4 separate regions of the Homo sapiens genome follow, and regions 1, 2 and 3 are each linked to region 4. The links come from fine-mapping of genetic effects on plasma protein levels. A gene starts in region 4. Each other region holds a variant in brackets. All regions are shown on one strand. Distances are between the middles of the regions.

Region 1 (5,000 bases), 46 kb before region 4:
AAATAGGGTACACAAAAATCAATGTTCTAAGGGCATTAAGTTCTACTCTTGCCCATAGGTGGAGCACAGGGACCATCAGAATAAATGAATTACTTATACCCTATCATCTAAATAATATGCTACTCTACTTTTAACAGACCAGATGGGCGCTTGCTCTGTATAATTTTGAAAAGAATAATCTGAGAACAGGATACATTCCTCTGTTTCTTTTTCCTTCCTACTTCTCTCCATTTTTCAATCTTATAGCTTGCCTCCATCTCCCAGTGAGTGTCCATGGATGTGCCCCAGGATTCAGTTTTTTGTCTTCTTGTCTATCTCATTCACTTTATGAGCACTCCTTTCGGTCTTTAGGCTTTAAATCCATTCACATGCCGAGGATTCCCAAAATTAGATCTTCAGCCCAGACCTCTCCCTTCAACTCCAGATTCATGCACAAAATCGCTTATTTAACATCCTTATTTGGATATCTAATAAGCATCTCAAACTTAACATATGCAAAACTGAAGTCCTTATCTTTCCCTCAAACCCAGCTCTCCTCACAGCCTTCTCTGTCTCAGTACATGGCACCAGCATTCACTCAGTTGCTCAAGCCAAAAATCTAAGAGGTATCTCTGAATCCTTAATTACCTTCACACCTCCACAGACAGGCAACTAACAGCAAGTCTTATCAATTCTACTCTCAAAATATATACTATTTCTGACCACTTCTTGCTATCTCCATTGCTAACCCCCTAGTATAGGTTATCCTCATCTTTCTGCCAAAACACTGCAATGCCTCCGAACTACTCCATCGGCTTCCACTTTTGCCCAAGTCAGTTCTTCACTCAGCAACTACAATAATCCTTTATGACAGTAACTCAGACCATGTGCCTACTCTGCTCAAAACTCTCCAATGCTCCTCATCATGCTTAGAATAAAATCTCAGTTCCTTGCCATGGCCTGCGTGATGTGGTTGGCCAACCTCTGTCCTCCCTCGCTGCCACTCTCTACCCTGCACTCTCCACTCCAGCCAAACAAACCAAGTGCATTTCAGCCTTGGGGACTTTGCATTTGCTGTTCCCATGGCCTGGAGTGCTCTTTCCTCGAATATCTGAATGATTCACTCCTTTACATTACTGGGAGTCTCTCCTCAAATGTCACTTTCTTGGTGACATCCTACATAAAATGCACCTCCTATCACCTCCTAGCCATACCCCACTACTGTCAATTATACTTCTAAGTGAAATTATAGTATTTATTATTTATTTTGTGTGTGTGTGTGTATGTGCATGTGTGTATCTTTCCCTCTAGAATGTAGATGAGGACTTTGTCCTGTTCACTGCTGTAACTTTAGCACTTAGAACAGTACCTGGTTCACAAATAGGCACTCAAAAAATATACATATATAGAGAGAGTATATATATATGTTGAATAAATGTTGAAATAATGATAAAATATTGGTTCTGGATCCAACTTAATAACCTTATTTCAACCTTAGTTATTTACTACAAGAGCAAATAACAGTCCTATAATGAGATAGAGAAAATAAAATATTCTCAAGGAATGGATACCATACATTCATGACAACTTGATGAAGTTCTCTTTCCCACAATATTAAGTAGTAGCCTACTTTGCATTAATACCAGACAAGTCATTTTATTAGTAAAGGTCTCCATTTCTAAAACTTCATTCTAAGAACTACTGACTAACTTGATAGATTAGGCATTTGAAAGAGTATTATGTGAACATAGGACCTATTCAACAATCCTAAACACATGCAAAGGCAGCAGTGCTTGAGCAGGGAGCCCTGGAAAACTAATCCAACATGGTTTTCATTAGAAAGTGGGCATAGCGGCTGGGTGCAGTGGCTCATGCCTATAATCCCAGCACTTTGGGAGGCTGAGGAGGGTGGATCACTTGAGGTCAGGAGTTTGAGACGAGCCTGGCCAACATGGTGAAACCCTGTCTACTAAAAATACAAAAAATTAGCCGGGCGTGGTGGTGGGCACCTGTAATCGCAGCTACTCGGGAGGCTGAGGCAGGAGAATTGCTTGAACCCAGGAGGTGGAGGCTGCAGTGAGCCGAGATCACACCACTGCGCTCCAGCCTGGGCAACAGAGACTCCATCTCAGGAAAAAAAAAAAAAAAAGAAAAGAAAAGAAAGTGGGCGTGGTAATACTTCCTTGTCATGTCATACTCCCGAAAGCCACTTACAGGCAACATGCTTCTAATACACTGGGCAGACATAAAACACAAGCACTAAAAGTAATAACCACAGCAAACAGGCTATCAGAAACTGCAAAACCTGCCTGGGCAGCTACCTTACCTTTTTAGGTAAAGCAGGAGTACTATGATTGCACCTGCGACGATGACTGGAACAAT[G/A]AGTAACATGGTTATGTAGAGTGTGGAATTGCGCTTCTTACCTGGAGAATGAAAAGCAAACAGAAAGACTTGAGAAATAAAACCCTTTTAGTAATAAACCAAGCAGCAATTCTGTTAGCTAGTAAGATCACAAATATTTCTGCTCCCTCCCCCAACCTATTTTCCCAAGCTCTTCAATTATCTTATCTTCTGTTAAATTAATAGTTTAAAAAAAAAAAGTCCTCCTCTGGTGCCTGAACTTCCCTAGGCGAGCAAATACCTAAAAGATTACCTGAAATTAGGATATTTTTTAAAAGACAAACATAAGCTTTATTCTCTTTCAAAAACTCAGAGACTAGGACCTGGAACCATATTCATTAATTTAATCTGGATCAGAATCCCTTAAATTTGATGGTCTCATTTAAACTTTTGTTTGTTTGTTTGTTTTGAGACAGAGTCTCTCACTCTGTCACCCAGGCTGGAGTGCAATAGCACGATCTTGGCTCACTGCAACCTCCGCCTCCATGTTTCAAGAGATTCTCCTGCCTCAGCCTCCTGAGTAGCTGGGACTACAGGCGCACACCACCACACCGAGTTAATTTTTGTATTTTTAGTAGAGACGGGGTTTCCCTATTTGGGCCAGGCTGGTCTTAAACTCTTGACCTCAAGTGTTCTGTCCGCCTCAGCCTCACAAATTGCTGGGATTACAGGCATGAGCCACTGCGCCCAGCCACATTTAAAATTTTATAGAAATAGACTGACCATTCTAAAAATGACAAAATACATGTTGTTTTCAACTACATAGTAAAAAATGTAGTAAACTCTCTTTTTCAAAATAGAGGAGGGCTGGGCTAGTGAGCTCAAACATTCATAATAAAAATTTCTCTATGTACATAAAATAATGTTTTCATAGCCTAAAATCACCATACAAAAACTGATAATAAAATTGTGTAGTGTTCAGGAGTTGGAAAGCCAACACACTGGAATTACCCAAGTATTTTTTTGGTATCTGTAATAATGAGATAGAATCTCTTAAATCATAGTTGTCCCAGAAGATCTGAGACGGATGTCAGTGACATGCACATTGTCCATTGTTCAGTAACTTTCAGAGAACTAACAGACTAAACTATGTATACTATCCAATACAATCCAATATTTCTTAACTGATAAAAAAAAAACTTCAAGATCTTGTGCTGCTTTAAAGGAAGGAGTATAAACGAATGAGTGGTAACTGGAAAATAGCTATAATAGAAAGCAGGTACTGAAGAATTCTGTCTGACAAATACCAAATAACTGTTTGCTTTTAGCAAATAAACTGGAACATATCACATAGGGTTTTTTTTTAAAGTTCTTTTAAGCTATTTTGCCATGAAAGAAAGGTTTTTTTAAATAAAAATATTGCTTCTTAGAATAACTTTAAACATATTGATTGATGTTAGTCAATCGATAAAATCAATGGAATCATTTTAGCTAAGACTTTTAACATTATCTCCAAGATTCAAATAATGTTAAGATTCTAGTTTACATATAAGACTATATATACCTTAGCATTGTTTCAAATATGATTACTACAAATGTATCTCATTGGAAAACATAAAAAAATTTTTTCCAGATCCAAGAGAAAAGGTATGAATGAAGCCCTTTGTAAGTACGCACGTGTGCGCACGCACACACCCACACACACAGATTAAATGACAAAGAAGACTGAGCCAGGAGACATAGATGTGACTAGGGAAATTACTTTCCCTCAAAGATCCCTTCCAGCTATCTGATTCTACAGTTAAAAAGCATTCCCTCTGAACTGTACAAACTGGCCTCACATTTTCAAATTTCTACACAGTATCTGGTAAAGTTTGCCTGTTTGCTGTTATACTAAAATATCAAATAAATCGACACAAACCCTGGCCTACAAATCTGTACACCAACTAGTTTTCCAGAGATAGTGATTTTTTTTAATTTAATTTTTTTGAGACAGAGTCTCACTCTGTCACCCAGGCTGGAGTGCAGTGGCACGATCTCGACTCAATGCAACCTCCGCCTCCCGGGTTCAAGCGATTCTCCTGCCTCAGCCTCCCGGGAGCTAGAACTACAGGCATCTGCCACCATGCCCAGCTTATTTTTATATTTCAGTAGAGAGAGGGTTTCACCATGTTGGCCAGAGTGGTCTTGTACTCCTGACCTCAAGTGATCCACCCGCCTCAGCCTCCCAAAGTGATGGGATTATAGGCATGAGCCATGGCGCCCAGCCCAGAGATAGTGATTTTTTAAAAATTCATTCCACAAGTCATTAGAGCATACTATATTTAAGGCAGAGTGCCAGACCAAACCTGCAACATTATGGTGTCACTGTCCCTGGGAACAAATTACTATCTGAAAAACTGGACTCAGGTGACTGCTTCAGGCCCAACCAGGTTCAGGGTAGTGATTTCCAAATTTGAGAGAATACAGGAATCTCCAGAGGAGTTTGTTAAAACACAGTTTCAAGCATCTCACCCCAGCATTACTGTGTCAGAATCTCTGGGGTTGGTGCCTCCTCATCTATCTGCATATTTAACAAATATGTTCTCCCACACCCCTCCATGCCTCTGCAGATAATTTGTGGGTCTCACTCTCCATCCCAACCCACCCTCCCCACAAAGAAAAGAAAACCACTGTACTGT
Region 2 (5,311 bases), 76 kb before region 4:
AGCAATAATAGGACAGAAAGTATGCACTGCACCTGTAGTCCCAGCTACTTGGCAGGCAAGAGGATCACCTGAGCCCAGGAGTTTGAGACTAGCCTGGGCAAAATAGTGAGACACCATCTCAATTTTTTAAAAAAGAAAAGAAAGCATGCTCTATTCTTTGAATCTACTACAGCATCTCGTACACGATCTATATTCGTCAAAAGCCTTCTTGAATGAATTAATAAAAGCACAAAGTGGAATAGCATAGACACTGATCATAGGAATGCTGCTCCCAGACTCCATGTTTCAATACTGCTGCTATGAATATGGGTGTGCAAATATCCCAAGACCCTGCTTTTAATGCTTTTGCATAAATACCCAGAAGTGGGATTGCTGAGTCATATGGTAGATCTATTTCTTTTTCTTTTTTCTTTTTTTTTTCTTTTTTTCTTTTTTTTTTTTGAGACGGAGTTTCACTCTTGTTGCCCAGGCTGGAGTGCAATGGCACGATCTCAGCTCACCGCAACCTCTGCCTCCCAGGTTCAAGCAATTCTCCTGCCTCAGCCTCCCGAGTAGCTGGGATTACAGGTGCCCACCACTACGCCCGGCTAATTTTTGTATTTTTAGTAGAGACGGGGTTTCTCCATGTTGGTCAGGCTGGTCTGGAACTCCCAACCTCAGTTGATCTGCCCACCTCGGCCTCCCAACGTGCTGGGACTACAGGCGTAAGCCACCGCACCCAGCCTAGGTAGATCTATTTCTAACTTTTTGAAGAACTACCATTCTGTTTTCCATGGCTGTTGCACCATTTCACAATCCCACAAATAGCACACAAGGATTCTCATTTCCCCACATCCACACCAACACTTTCTATTTTATGGGTTTTTTTTTATAGTGGCCATTCTAATGAGCGTGAGGTGATATTCATTCACTTTTATTGCTAAGTAGTATTCCATGATGTGACTGTACCAAAAATTGTTCAACCATTCACCCACCCATTGAAGGATATCTGAGTTTTTCTAGTTTTTGTAAATTATGAATAAAACCATTATAAACATTTATGTAAAGTTTGTTGTGTGAACATATGTTTTTATTTTTCTGGGATAGAGGCCCAACAGTACAATTGCTGGACCATGTGATAGTTGCATGTTTCGTTTTTAAACAAACTGCCACTCTTTCTCAGAGTAGCTGTACCATTTTATGTACCCACAAGAAATATATGAGTGATATGATTTCTTTGCATCCTTACTATTATTGAGGTGTTGTCATTATTTTTATTTTAGCCATTCTGAGAGGTCTGTAGTAATGTTACCAAAACAGCAGGAGTTCCATCTAGGTCCTGTTTTCTCACTGCACAGAAAGGCAAACACTGAGACAATGAGTATTGCCAAGGAAGAAGGCTTTAATCAGGTGCAGCAGCCAAGGAGACAAGAGATCAGTCTCAATTCCATCTCCCTGACCAACTAAAATTAGGTGTTTGTATAGCAGGGAAGAAGTGAAACCATGTGTGGGAAAACAGGAATTAGGGAGGGATAAGGAAGAGGAGTTGGTCAACAGGAAGCAGTTGGTTTGTCAGCCAATCAAGAAGGGTGAGGGATCTGGCTTCTCACTGTCCGGATGTGGTGATTTGGTGATTTTCAGATCCCGGATACTTTCTGGGAGGCCTGATGGTTTGTTTCCTGAGAAAGGAATTCAGATAAGACAAATGTAACTTTCTCAAGTTTTAAGACTGGAAGGATCAATTTCTATGTTTATTCAAAGAGATCAGAAACATCAGCTCTGTGGGACAATTGGGTTGGTTTCATAGTCACATGGTCTGTATATTTCCCAGTGGTATTCAAGCCAGCAACTTATAGAAAACTGCATGATCAAGTGTAAACTCAGCAGATTTACAAAGCACACACTTGACCACAGATAATTTTTCTCAACCTAACATTCAGACCCATAAGCCTATTTTTCCACCTTGCTTTAAAATTTTCAGTGCATTGTAAAATATCAGAAAAGGATTGCCCCATATTGGTCTTAATTAATCCATGCTGAAGTACTCTCTTTTAGTATCACATTTCCAATTTGTTTATATTGGTCCTTATCATGTGGGAAAAAATTACACAACACAGATATGCTCTGTACTACCATTTGCAAAAACATTCCGTAGACATATTAGAAGTTGGCATTTGTGTGTGTGTGTGTGTGTGTGTGTGTGTGTGTGTGTGTGTATGCATGGCTGTGTTTTTTTTCTGTTTTAAGGAAGACTATGTCTTGGTTGTGTGAGAACTTCTAAGCTTCAAGGCCAAACTTCAGTTTTCACTTCCTTCACAGATGTCTGACTACGCTTATAAAGAATTTCCAGAATTTGTTGGGCACTGTGGCTGACGCCTGTAATCCCAGCACTTTGGGAGGCTGATGCAAGTGGATCACTTGAGGTCAGGAGTTCGAGACCAGCCTGGCTAACGCGGTGAAACCCCGTCTCTACTAAAAATACAAAAATTAGCCAGGCGTGGTGGCGGGCGCCTGTAATCCCAGCTACTTGAGAGGTTGAGGCAGGAGAATCACTTGAACCCAGGAGGCAGAGGTTGCAGCGAGCCGAGATCGCACCATTGCACTCCAGCCTGGGCAACAAGAGCAAAACTCTGTCAAAAAAAAAAAAAGAAAGAAAGAAAGAAAGAAAAAAGAAAAAAAAGAGAGAGAGGAAGGAAGGAAGGAAGGAAGGAAGGAAGGAAGGAAGGAAGGAAGGAAGGAAGGAAGGAAGGAAGGAAAAGAGAAAACAAGAAGAATTTCCAGAATCCAATGGGATGCTAAACAAATTTTTAGTCAAAGCAATCTGGAAGGGAAAAAGAGCTACTTTGTGGCAGCAGGGCTGTATTCATTCCTAAATGCCAATGTAGTACGATTTTAAAGGCCAAACAATCATTTGTTCCCAAATTCTCACCCCTGTATATTACAAAGCATCATTATTTAAAAAATCACCGTGAGCCTTATTGGATCCTGATTCAAGCAAATTGTAGGAAAAAAAGACTTATGAGACAATTGGGGAAATGTAAACACTGACTAGATAATTGAGAATATTAAGCAATTATTGTTTAGTTTTAAAGTGTGATAATGGTATTGCAGTTTTTTAAAACAAAAAGGGTCCTTAGTTTGTAGAGATATATACTAAAGTATTTACAGATGAAATGATGTGATGTCTGGGACTTGCTTAAAAATAATTCGTCATGTAGGAAGTAGGAAATGGGTGGCAGTATAAATGAAATAAGATTGAC[C/A]ATTTTGATAATTGTTGAAGCTAGTTGATGGGTATATGACCATTCACTGTAACAGTCTCCTTACTTCTATATATGTTTGAACTTTCCCATAATATTTTTTTAATCCACCATAAAAGTGGTAGCATGGTTTGGGGAGGCTCCTTGTAATATGAATTTTATCCAGAAATGGTAACCCACAAACTTCTTAGCCCTCCTTGGCTACATTAGCAAAGATGAATTGATCAAACATCTTATGAGGCAGAGGCCACAAGGAACAGGAAATGAGGCAGGACAAGTCTGAAAAGAGGAAGTTAAGAAAGGCTTGGAACATGGACTCTTGCCAGAGTGGACAAGCTATTGCCAACCACTGAACGAAAGGGTTTGAAGTGTAGCAGCTGGAGAGAGGATGCTAAAAGAAAGTAGTAGCCTCCTTAGGGGGAAGGTGTCTTGTATATGCATGTTGGTGGGGGATAGTGGGGTGGAGCTTGAATGTTCAAGGCTGTAAAACAAACTCACCCTTTGATTAGAGCTATCTTTGTCTCCCTTTGGAAACATCATGAAAATAAGACATGTAGAACTGATTCTTAATCCAAATCTCAAGTCAAACAATAACTCAGAATAATTTTCTGTTTTTTCCCCCATTTTCAAATCTACAAGTCTTAGGTCAGCTGCTTGTTTTCTATAGCTGTTTCCATTATTTTCCCAAAACAATCAAAAGTTACTATTTTATTGATTGCGAATGTTAGACCTAAAGGAGCCCTTGTAGATCACTTACTCCTTTTTTTTCACAAGTGAGCAAACTGAAGCTCAGAGAAAGAAAGAAACTTGCCCTGCATCATACAGTACCTAGCTAGCACAGTGCTGGCACATGGTAGACACTCAATAAATATCTGTTGAATCCAGGGTTGATACATAACCTACCAAGTAATTATAGCCAGCATCTGACCTGACTGGTTGGTGCCCATGTCACATAGCTTTAACATCGCCCCCCAACTGAACAGATGAAGGAATGAAAATAAAGTAGTAAAGCCAGATTGTTCTTGACTTGCAGACATTCTTTTTCTGTAATTCTAGTTCTAGTCTTCATGGGGCCCTAAGTGGGCAGGCAGGGCCACCTTTGGCTGCAAAGCTTACAGAGAATCCAGGCCTCCTCTGGACTCGATGTTTGTTAATTGTCCATTAGCCTCCTCAGTGCTCCTAGGTACTGGCCAGCCTTATTTGGGGCTGCATAGCAGGCAGAGTGTACGGCAACCCTCACATGTTAAAGGTTTGATCTGCACTCTCATCCTAACAAAGTAATTAATTGGGGCTCCAAACTACCTATTTCACTGTCAGGGAGTGGATACCCAGCATTATTTTTCCAGTTCTCATCTACCCCAGGGATGAGGGGAGAGTGGAAAAAAGAAAAGAAAAAAGAAAAAAAATACTTTTAAGTGTTTGTAGAAGCATAAATAAGAATTAATGTTGCTAACTGGATTTATACCATAGAATTTTTTTCTAAAAACAGTATAATTGGAAAATGCCATGTCATTACAAATTCACTACAATGAAGGCAAATATTATAGTATGATATTGTAAACCAAGATTGTCATTTTCACATGAGGAGGGACAAGAAATTGGTTCCAGAATAACAGTATGTGCAACCACAACTACCATTTATTAAAGTTCACTGTGCTAAGCATTTTACATTTTATTTCACTGACACCTCACAGCAACGCTAGGTGGTAGGTCCTTTTATCAGCATTTTACAGATGAGGACTGAGCCTCAGGTAGATCAAGTTAAGAAAATCTCCCAAAAAGCAGAACCAAAAGACAAATAAAGGGAACATGGGAGAAAAAAGATACGAAAATTACAGAATCAGTCCAGGATGTCCAATGTACAACTAATAGGAATCCTAGAGATAAAGAAAACACAAGGGAAGCTATTGTGTGAGAAATAATAGAAAGCAATGTCTTAAAAATGAAGCATGAGATTTTAGATTGAAAGGGCTCACAAAGTCCAGCCCAGTAAATGGAAGAAGATCCACAATAAGGCATATCATTAAAATTTAAAACACCAAGAGAAAAGAGGCCAAGAGAAAACCTTGCAGATA
Region 3 (5,000 bases), 62 kb before region 4:
TTTATAATTCAATGAGAATGACTCCACACTCTTCTCCAAAGCGCCCATTATTTTTAGTTTTTCGGTGCGCGACTCAACATAAAGACCTGTGGCTCTTATGAGCTGCCTGTTTTTAAATGGTGCAGTAGTTTCAGTTTCCATTTAATAAGTTCCCAGATAACAAATGGAGAATGGGAAGAATCTTCTCAAGGTCACAGTGAAGGTAAAAATAAATTATCTCCATCACTGAGAGGCTTTCTTCAGGTTTTCTATCAGCACTACAGAGTCGGTTTCCTCCTTGGTTTGCTTCTCATAGATGTCGTACTTCTTCCAGTGCTAGAAGGGAGGAAAAAAACACATACACAATGACATATCTAAACAGTGTTCTTTCCCTGAGTACTTAGTGCCAATGCTTATTTTTAGGTTTGTGTGGATGGAACCGTAGGGGTATGATTTCCTGTTTTTTTTTTTTTTTTGACCTAAGAATCTTTATCTATCTGAATGATTAATGAAACAGAACAATCAGGAATTAATATTAAATGGAGGTGGGAATCATGAGATAGTTACATGATGTACAATGACTATCTCCAGAAATAAACAAATTTGGACATTTCCACCACTGGAAATAAAATCTATTAAGAAGAATAAAAGGATGTCATGCCGTTCTTACTCCAACTGTTTTGCTGAGACCTTTATTACCTTTATTTTCTTAATGCTCATTGCTCCAGAGACATAATAGGTTCAAAAAGTCAAGTAGCATTGAGATGAATGGTAAAACATAAGATGTTCCTAAAGTCTTACTGCAATCGAAATTGCCGAAAGACCCTATATTAAGAGCTTCATCTAACATCATTTGCTAGAACAGGAAATTACACATAAAGCACACTTATCTTGAACCCAATTCAAGCATGTCTCTTATGGTAAAAGCCAATATCCTGGTCCTTGCCTTTTTTTTACTTTTACTTGTAAATCAGAGGAAAGGGTGAAACATGAGCTCGGTCCTCTCATCTGTAAAATAAAGTTGTTATACTAAACCAGGGGTCAGCAAACTATGGTCCACAGGTCAAATCCGGCTGAATGCTGGTCTTTGTTTCATATTGCCTTCACCTGCATTCATGTTATAATGGCAGAGTTGAGTTGTGACAGAGACTGAATGGCTTGCAAAAACAAAATCATTTATTATCTGGCCCTTTACAGAAAAAAGTCTACCAAACCCTGCATTAGGTTATGTCTAAGCTCGTTTTCTGCACAGATGTTCTTAGAAAAGAAATGGAAAGAAGAAAAACAGAAACAAGAGCTGCCTCAGGTTGTGCAACTGAAGATGGACTGGGCAAGTTAAGAGATGAGGGGATGAGTTGGGAAACACTGCTCAAAATATGCAAATTATTCTAAACAAATTATATAACCCTGACACACCTACTAGAATGGCTAAAATTAAAAATACCGACAATTCCAAGCGCTCATAAGAACGCAGAGAAACTAGATCTCTATGTATTGTTGGTAAAAATAAGATAGTGCAATCATTATGGAAAACAGTCTGACACTTGGTTATAAAATAACACATACACTTACCACATGACCCAGAAATCCCACTCCCAGGTATTTACCCAAGAGAAATGAAAACATGTCACACAAAGACTTCTACATGAATGTTTATAGCATTTTCACTAATAATAGATTAAAAACTAGATACAACTCTGATGTCCTTGAACAAGTGAATGGTTAAATAAACTGTGGTTACAACCATATTATAGAATACTGCTCAGCAATAAAAGGAAATGAACTACTGACACACACCACAGTGTGGATGTCTCTTAAACACATTATGCTGAGTAAAAGAAGCCAAACTCAAAAAGCTATGTACTGTGTGATTTCATTTATAGGACATCTTGTAAGACTTTAGGGACAGAAAACTGATCAGTGTTTGCAAGGCGATTAACAGAGGGGGTTGACTGCAAAGGAC[T/C]ACAAGATAACTTTTAGGAGATGATGGAAATATTCTATATTTTTAATGGAGCAGTGGTTACAAAATTGCATATATTTGCTAACATTCTTCTAACTGAACACTCAAAAAAGAGTAAATTTTATTGTAAATTACACCTCAAACTTGATTTTAAAACATGTGAAATGTATAGATTTCTAATAAAAACAATTTGAAAAAATTATATAACCTTGAAAAAATGGCTTATTTAATAAATGACACTAAGACAAGTGGGTAATATAAGCATTTGAAAACAATGCTAAACCCTACCTCATAGCCTACATGAATAAATCCCTGATGGATTAAAGATCTCAATGTTAAAAAAAATCAAATAAGTACTAGAAAAATATGTAGAGGAACAACTATATAAATCTAAGGTGGAAAGGGCTCTTTACACCTAAAAATACAGGAAGATTTGACTGCATAAAAAAGGAAAAACCTTTTGTACATCATTAATCACCCTAAATACAATACAAAGGAAAACATGGATAAGAAGCCAGAGGGTTAATATCTAATACGTAAAGAGCTTTACAAACCACCAAAAGATGAATACAACAAGGAAAAATGGACGTGGAACAAGAATTTCACAAAAGAATTAATTCAAGCCAATAAACTTGGGAAAAAGTACAAAACCTGACTGTAAAATTAAGACGCTCTTTTCTCATCTATTAACTTGGCAAGAATTTTAAAATTAGGTAATATCATATTGGCAAAAGTATGGTCAAACAACCAGTCGAACATACTGCTGGTAGGTATATGAACTGGCACAACTTAGTTGTAATCTATGCTTCTTATGAAAAAATTTGTTTGTGCATTTTAATGCCCCAGTTTCCTTAACACAAAGGAATCATACTCTCCATATGTAACCTGGGTGTTTCACCTAACAGTGTATGTTATATTTTTATACATCAGTAAAAGTGATCTACCTCATTTTAACCTCTACATAATATTTCATTGCATGAATGCACCATAACTTATTTAGCCAGTTTCCTTAATGGGAATTTAATTTGTACAACCTTTCTGGATGACAATTTGTCAATACAGGTAGAATATCCCTTATGCAAAATGCTTGGGACCAGAAGTGTTTCAGCTTTTGGAATATTTGCACTATATACTTACCAGCTGAGCATCACTAACGCAAAAATCTGAAATTCCAAATGTTGCAATGAACATTTCCTTTGAACGTCATGTTAGAAAGTTTCAGATTTGGGAGCATTTCGGATTTTAGATTTTCAGATTAGGAATACTCAGCCTGTATCAGTCAAAGAGTTTAAAATACATATACCCTCCCCCTTGATCATGCAATTTGGCTTGTAACAATTTATCCTAAGACAGTAATAAAATATTAATACATATGCTTATACTTAGCTGTGAAATGATGCCTATACAATGAAATTTAGGATTCATCCAAATGCCAATAGGAATTTTGTTAAGTACATTATAATATGTGCACACAATGGAATATTATTTAGCCACTAAAAACTATATTATAGGGGACCAGGGTTGACTAACTTTTCCTGAAAATGGCTAGATAAGAAGTATTTTCAGCTTCGGGGGCCATATAGTCTCTGTGCCTATAAAACAACTCTGCTGTTGTAGCATGAAAGCAGCCACAGACAATATATAAATGAATGGGCCTGGCCAACGAAACTGTATGACACTGAAATCTTAATTTCATGTGCCATGAAATAGTATTCTTACATTTTTTTCCCAACTATTTAGAAGCACAAAAACCATTCTTAGGTTAAAGACTGTACAAAAACAAGTGGCAGGCAGAATTTGCCCCTTGGTCTATAGTTTGCAGAAAAATTCTGCGAAGAAGATGGTGGTAGCAGCATCGTTTTTGAATATTCCCAAATATCACCATAAAAAAACACAAGTTGGAAATATAAATAGGAAAGTGTTGCGTGAAGTCAGGGACCCCGAACGGAGGGACCTGCTGAAGTCATGACAGAAGAATATAAATTGTGAAGATTTCATGGACATTTATTAGTTCTCCAAATTAATACTTTTATAATTTCTTACGCCTCTCTTTACTGCAATCTCTGAACATAAATTGTGAAGATTTCATAGACATTTATCACTTCCCCAATCAATACTCTTATAACTTCCTATGCCTATCTTTACTTTAATCTCTTAATCCCGTCATCTTCATAAACTGAGGATGTATGTCGCCTCAGGCCCCTGTGATGATTGCATTAACTGCACAAATTGTTCATAAAGCATGTGTGTTTGAACAATATGAAATCTGGGCACCTTGAAAAAAGAAAAGGATAACAGCAATGTTCAGGGAACAAGGGAGATAACCATTAGGTCTGACTGCCTGGAGCCGGGCAGGACAGTCATATTTCTCTTATTGCCAAAAACAGGTACGAGAAATATCACTGAATTATTTCCCCAGTAAGGAATATTAGCAATTAACAGCCCTGGGAAAAGAATGCATTCCCAGGAGGAGGCCTCTAAAATGGCTGCTCTAGGAGTGTCTGCCTTATGCAGTCATAGATAGAGATGAAACACGCCCTAGTCTCCTGCAGCACCCTCAGGCTTATTAGGATTAGGAAATTTCTGCCTAGTAAATTTTAGTCAGAATGGTTGTCTGCTCTCAAACCCTGTTTCCTGATGTTTATCAATGACAATGCATGCACAGCAGGACCAGGAACCAGGCGAAATTCTAGTTTCGCCCTGGCCTTGTGACCTTGCCCTGCCCATTTGCCTTGTGATATTTTGTTGCCCTTGAAGCATGTGATCTCTGTGACCCACACCCTATTCGTACACTCCCTCCCCTTTGAAAATTGCTAATAAAAACTTGCTGGTTTTACGGCTTAGGGGGCATCATGGAACCTGCTGACATGTGATGTCTCCCCCAGACATCCAGCTTTAAAATTTCTCTCTTTTGTACTCTTTCCCTTTATTTATCAGACCGGCTGACACTTAGGGAAAATAGAAAAGAACTTACGTTGAAATATTGGGGGCTGGTTCCCCCAATAGGAAAGTAAATCCAAAATCTACCAACACAAGATGAAATCTACAACAAAACAAGATG
Region 4 (5,299 bases):
ATCCCAGTCATCCAGAAGATCTAGCTCAAGTTTTACCTCTTCCATAACACTACCAACCGTCAGCTTTTTCTCTTTTGAATGCCTATAGTACTAGTTGTTTGGACCACACAGCCCAGCCACTATAAAGCCAGTCTCCAATGTAGTATCATTCGCTTCTTTTTTTGTTTTGAGACAGTCTTGCTCTGTCGCCCAGGCTGAAGTGCAGTGGCCTGATCTTCCCTCACTGCAACCTCTGCCTCCCAGGATCAAATGAGTCTCATGCCTCAGCTTCCTGAGTAGCTGGGATTACAGGCATGTAATCCCACACTCGGCTAATTTTTGTATTTTTAGTAGACGGGGTTTTGCCATGTTGGCCAGGCTCAAACTCCTGGCCTCAAGTGATCCATCTGCCTCAGTCTCCTAAAGTGCTGGGATTACAGGCATGAGCCACTGCACCCGGCCTAATATAGTATCATTAGCTTCTTAACAAATGGCTTGCACATACTTTCGTGGGTCCCAAGCCGTCCTGCCCTGCTACCCTGGGAGGTGTCCAGCTAAGGACTCTCGTCTTTTCTGCTGGGCAGAAGCAATGAGTACAGTGGTTAAGGGCATGGCCTCTGGAATCAGGCTGCCAGGGTTGGAAACCTAGCTCTTCCACTTTGCCAGGTATGCGAATTTGGGCAAGGGTCTTGGTCGCACTGTGCCTCAACTTTTTCGTGTACAAAATGGGACTAATAACAGCACCTACAAGTTATATTATTGGTAAAGATTAAATGAAATAGTACAAGTAAAGCAGCTAGAAAACTGCTGGGCATAAATGCTATATACATGCTAGTTATAATTAAGACATGCCACAATGTGGGCCATTGAGTGGGACAGGTTAAACTAAGCTAGTAATCTAATCACTTTTATAAACACTCTGAGGATTAGAGCTGGAGGAGCTCTTAGAATTTATGCAGTTCAACCTCCTCATTTCACAGATGAGAAAACTAACTGCAGCACAAAAGAGAGGAAATGACCAGCCCAGAGTCCCACAGGTGGTAAATATCAGAACCACTAAAACTCAAGTCTCACTGGAAACATCTAATTTTTTCCCACCATACCTCAATGCAATTCTATCAATACTTTTAATGGGGAAAGAAGTTTGTTTTCTAAATAAGCAAGCTAACGACAAACCATTGTGACAGGACTGATGAAGTTGGGAGTTGCCAGTATTCTCTAGATGGCCAGCTGTTGTTTCAGGTGTGTGTGGGAGTGAGTCTGTAGGAGGGAGGGTGCTGGAGTGGCACTGTGAAAATCAGGAGACTAATGAGACGGGTAACTTTAGACAAGTTCCTTCCCTTCTCTGGACTGCAATGTCCCCATATGATTACGGAAATCAGGTGTACCCAACTAAACTAGAGGCCCTTTTGGGGCAAGAATTTTGCTATACACTCTCAGGTTCTAAGTCAACCTAGAGGGCCTGACTCAGTACTAAATAAGGCAGACACCTGAATAATTATTGACTGACAAGCTTCAAGTCTCCCTCAGGTCTCTACTCAAATGCCACCTTTCAGCAACATTTGTTTTCTTCTCGATCCACCCTTTTTACAATGGCAAACCCCTTCCCACCTGCTCTGTTTTTCTCTACTTAACACCCTCAGACATATCATATATTTTACCCCCACCCCCCGATATGTCTGAGGGCAGGCACCTCATCTGTTTTGCTCACTGCTGCATCCTCAGCCCCTAAACACTGCCTGGCAGCATGTATTTTATTGACTGAATCCATAGAGGGCATTAAGGTTTCCTAATCAACATTTCAACTTGGATTTCAAAGCACATTGGTAAAAATGCAATAAGCATATATAAGTGTTTGTGTCAATGTGATAATAAAACCTATACAGTTTGGGGCTTTCATTGTCACCAAAAACGTCCAGAAGGCCATTCCTTCCAGGAGCTGCTCCTAAGGAAGTCATTAACTCCCAATTTTTCACAACTGCCAGGTTGATTAACTAGAAGTTACCAAACAGGGTGAGGGATATACACAACTCTCTGAAGTATCTTTGCAACTTTTCCATAAATCTACAATTACCCTAAAATATAAGGTTTATTAAAGAGAGTGGGGTGGGGGGAGCATCTGCCGGGATGCTATTCTGGATTTCCCAAAGGATTTCTTCGACGCCAGAGGAGGTCATGAGCGTCACGTCCTTTTTCAACAAGGACTGAGATGTTTAGAGGTTCCCTTCAACTTCCACTCGCAAGAGCCACCCTTAGACAGTGAGGATTGGCGCGGCCTCGGGCAAAGAGCCCCGGCGCGTTCTCAGCTCGCCTGGACTTCGGTCGTGGTCCCCGCCGGCTCTGGCGCCTCATTTCCTCCCGGGCTCACAGGCGACATTCCGGGCGCTGACCCACGGCCCTCTGACGCCGTGGGCATGTTTCGGGCCCCCCGCCCCCGCACGCCTGGACGCCAGCCTCCTGGGCTCTTCCCACTACAAGTCGCAGCCCTCTTACTTCGCTGCCGCCACCTCCGCCGCACCCGGAGTTCGGGAAAACCCCGCAGCTCCCGGGTCCCACCTCGAACCGGCCCCAGTACCGGGCCCCAGAGATCCCGCGCGGGAAGCCGCAGCCGCCGAGCGCGGGGCCTCGCGAGGGCAGCCCCCAGCACCCACCCCAGCTTCGGCCCTCCGCCCGGCGTTGACCTCCGGGGCCTTTCAGCCGTGACCCTCACCGCCCTCAGCCCTCCGGCCGCCCCTCGGGCCCCGAGGGTCGCACTCACCCGTAGGCGCGGCGCCCCCGCCCCCGCCCCCGCCGCCGGCGCAGAGCAGCAGCGCCCACAGCCCGCAGAGCCGCGCCGGCCACTCCATGCAGCCTCTCGCCTCGGAGCCCGGCCGGGCTGGAGCCTTGGCAGTCCCCGCCTCCTTCGCTCCCTCTTCCACTTCCCGGCTCCGCCGCCCTGGAGGCTGGGGGCCGGCGCAGACGGGAAGGGCCGCCCCGCCCACCGGCCTCAGGTAACCTGAGCCGGCGAGAGCGGCCGGAGGAGGCGGGGCGGGGCGCCGGCGGCTCTGGCGGCTCTGGCGGCTCCTACGGCTCCCAAGGCTGGACACCTGGCCCACCCGCAGCTCCCGCGTCCGGTCTCTGACCGAACAAAACTTCTTCCACCACGTCGCCGCCCACTCCGGGCGCTGCCTGGGCCTCCTCCCTCCGCGTGGCGGAGCCGGCGTCGCCGCTGCCAGCACACTTGCGGGGCCTCGGAGGTGCTAGGGGCTGTGCCCTGCTGGACACCAGGACAGAGTCATCTGCGGAAAAGAGCCTTGGCCTGGGAGTCTGGAGACCTGGCTTCCAGCCCTTGACCTCTGAGCCCTTGTTTGCTAGCGCTGACTCCAGGGTTAGTAATACCAGCCCTACTTCACTGGGTGGAGTTGGGGACACTGGCAGTACTGTGCTTTGTGAAAAGGACAAAGGGCATATTTGAAAGCTGGCAATACATAATGTTGATTTTAAAAGGAACATTCCAAACATGAGGGAGGATACCATACGTGCATTTTTTAAAGCACACGACAAACTTTCTACATATTTTTCAAAGGGATGGGAGGTGAATCGGAAGAATACACATTGATACTTGGGCGCCTATGAGGGTCAGTGAGGCTGGGAGGAAGGAAAACAAGAGTCCTTAGGCGTTTCCTGTTGCTGCTGTCAAAAATGACCACAAATTTAGTGATTTAACAGTTTTATTTTATTACAGTTCTGGAGGTCAGAAGTGACACTGAGCTTAAATCAAGGTGTGGGCAGAGATGTATTCCTTCTGGATATTCTAGGGGAGAATCTGTGTCTTTGACTTTTCCAGCTTCTAGAGGCTACCCACATTCCTTGGCTTGTTGCGGAACTACTCAGACCTCTGCTTCCCTTGTCGTATCTGACTCTGACCCTCTTACTTCCCCTTTTCCCTTATAAATACCCTTGTGATTAGATTAGGTCCACCAGATAATTCATAATAATCTCCCCATCTCAAAATCCTTGATTTAATCATAACTGAAAAGTCATTTTTGCTATGTAAGTTAACATATTCACAGGTGTTGGGGATCACGATATGGAATCATGGGAGGGGGACATTATTCTATCACCTTCTCCCAAAAAAGAATCATGTCTAGGTGGATGATGAGACCCATAATGAGGTGTATTTTGGCCGAATTAAGCCAATGCATATACCTGAAAACAGTTACAAAAAGTATAGCAATAAAAATGCTGATAATATACCTAGTCTAGACCCCACCCAAAGGGCACAGGGTTGTTTAACCTATTCACAACAAAGGTTCCACTCTTGGAATTAAGGCTCTCAAACTCAATAAATATTTATGAAATTGTTCCAGGAACTGTTGAAGACACTCACCAAAAGCAAGCTCTGCTAACAGAAAGCTGCAGTCAGTCTGAGGGGCAATGATAAGGGCAAGAACAAGGAATTATGGGATACAAAAAGGGTACCTTTTGGGAGGGAAGGAGCAAGGGAAGCTTCCAGGAGGAGGGCCTGCCTGTGCTGAATCTCAGGATGTTGATTCTTTTGGCTAACGGTTCAGAATAAATTCCAGAATCCAGGCATGGTGGCATGCACCTGTAATCCCAGCTATTCTGGAGGCTGAGGTGGAAGGATCACCTGAGCCCAGGAGTTCAAAACCAGCCTGGGTCTGTAACAGAGTGAGACCCCGTTCTCAAAAAAAAAAAAAATAAATCCTGGCTTGCATGTGTTATCGAACAAAATAATGTTTATGAAAACAGTTTGTAAAGTATCAAGGCCTGTAGAACTGAGAGATAGTATCATTATTTCTAAATCCCTCCCACAAATAGGTCAGCCACTGTGTATCCCAAGGCCTTTCCTCCACCACCACGGACATATACACTTGTTGACATTTGCTATAAACATTATACAATAAGTTTATAATAACGTTTCCAAAATGGTTATGTCATCTGCCTTTTAAGGAGTCTTTAGTTGGAACAGGAGCCCCTGGGGACTGGCTGAGTGCCATCATGGGCACTGCTTGGCATAGATTGACCAAGCGCTTAATAAAACAGTAATGGTAGCAAATGATTAGAAAAATAGGGATTGCAGCTTGTCATGAGCTTCCAGAAAAGCCCTGAGAATCTGAACATCGTGAGGAAAAAAAACAAACGGCAGTGTGGAGAGGGGAGAGACCTGATTTCTTTTCACCAAGATAGTTCCGGCCTGCTGGCCTTAAGACTATATTGTTACTTTCCTTTCTTCCCGACCCTGAACATCATGCAACGATTTTTCAAATTTTTGGAAGGGGGTGGAAAGAGTCAGGAATGCTGTTTCTTCAACATAAAA

Direction of the effects. Alleles are on the strand shown, and positions count from the first base shown. The strength of an association depends on the size of the effect and on how common the allele is.
With allele G in place of A in region 1, the plasma level of the protein whose gene starts at base 2,858 in region 4 is higher (moderate association).
For the plasma level of the protein whose gene starts at base 2,858 in region 4, allele A in region 2 goes with a lower level than allele C (moderate association).
For the plasma level of the protein whose gene starts at base 2,858 in region 4, T is the low allele of the variant in region 3 and C is the other (strong association).

What was found. PIP is the posterior inclusion probability: the model's chance that the variant is causal. Protein levels are from antibody-based Olink assays in UK Biobank. Linkage for the fine-mapping came from a reference panel and not from the study's own genotypes, which makes the PIPs less certain.
Region 1: its variant is fine-mapped to the plasma level of the IL13RA1 protein (UK Biobank, PIP above 0.99). The variant lies in the coding sequence of IL13RA1. If it changes the protein, the assay may bind it differently, which can mimic a change of level.
Region 2: its variant is fine-mapped to the plasma level of the IL13RA1 protein (UK Biobank, PIP above 0.99).
Region 3: its variant is fine-mapped to the plasma level of the IL13RA1 protein (UK Biobank, PIP above 0.99).

Annotation. Positions count from the first base shown.
Region 1 is chrX:118,771,281-118,776,280 of GRCh38, reverse strand. It overlaps IL13RA1 (interleukin 13 receptor subunit alpha 1), which reads right to left. Exons shown (of 11, transcript NM_001560.3): 9 at 2,306-2,402. It also overlaps the pseudogene TMEM30BP1. Among named protein-coding and RNA genes, the nearest start is that of IL13RA1, 46 kb to the right of the region's middle. The variant G/A (reference allele first, on the strand shown) is at 2,362.
Region 2 is chrX:118,801,279-118,806,589 of GRCh38, reverse strand. It overlaps a transcript of IL13RA1 not described here. Among named protein-coding and RNA genes, the nearest start is that of ZCCHC12, 20 kb to the left of the region's middle. The variant C/A (reference allele first, on the strand shown) is at 3,240.
Region 3 is chrX:118,787,077-118,792,076 of GRCh38, reverse strand. It overlaps IL13RA1 (interleukin 13 receptor subunit alpha 1), which reads right to left. Exons shown (of 11, transcript NM_001560.3): 11 at 1-315. The coding sequence ends at 223. Among named protein-coding and RNA genes, the nearest start is that of ZCCHC12, 34 kb to the left of the region's middle. The variant T/C (reference allele first, on the strand shown) is at 1,943.
Region 4 is chrX:118,725,165-118,730,463 of GRCh38, reverse strand. It overlaps IL13RA1 (interleukin 13 receptor subunit alpha 1), which reads right to left and starts at 2,858. Exons shown (of 11, transcript NM_001560.3): 1 at 2,738-2,858. The coding sequence starts at 2,825. RefSeq lists a silencer at 2,820-3,249.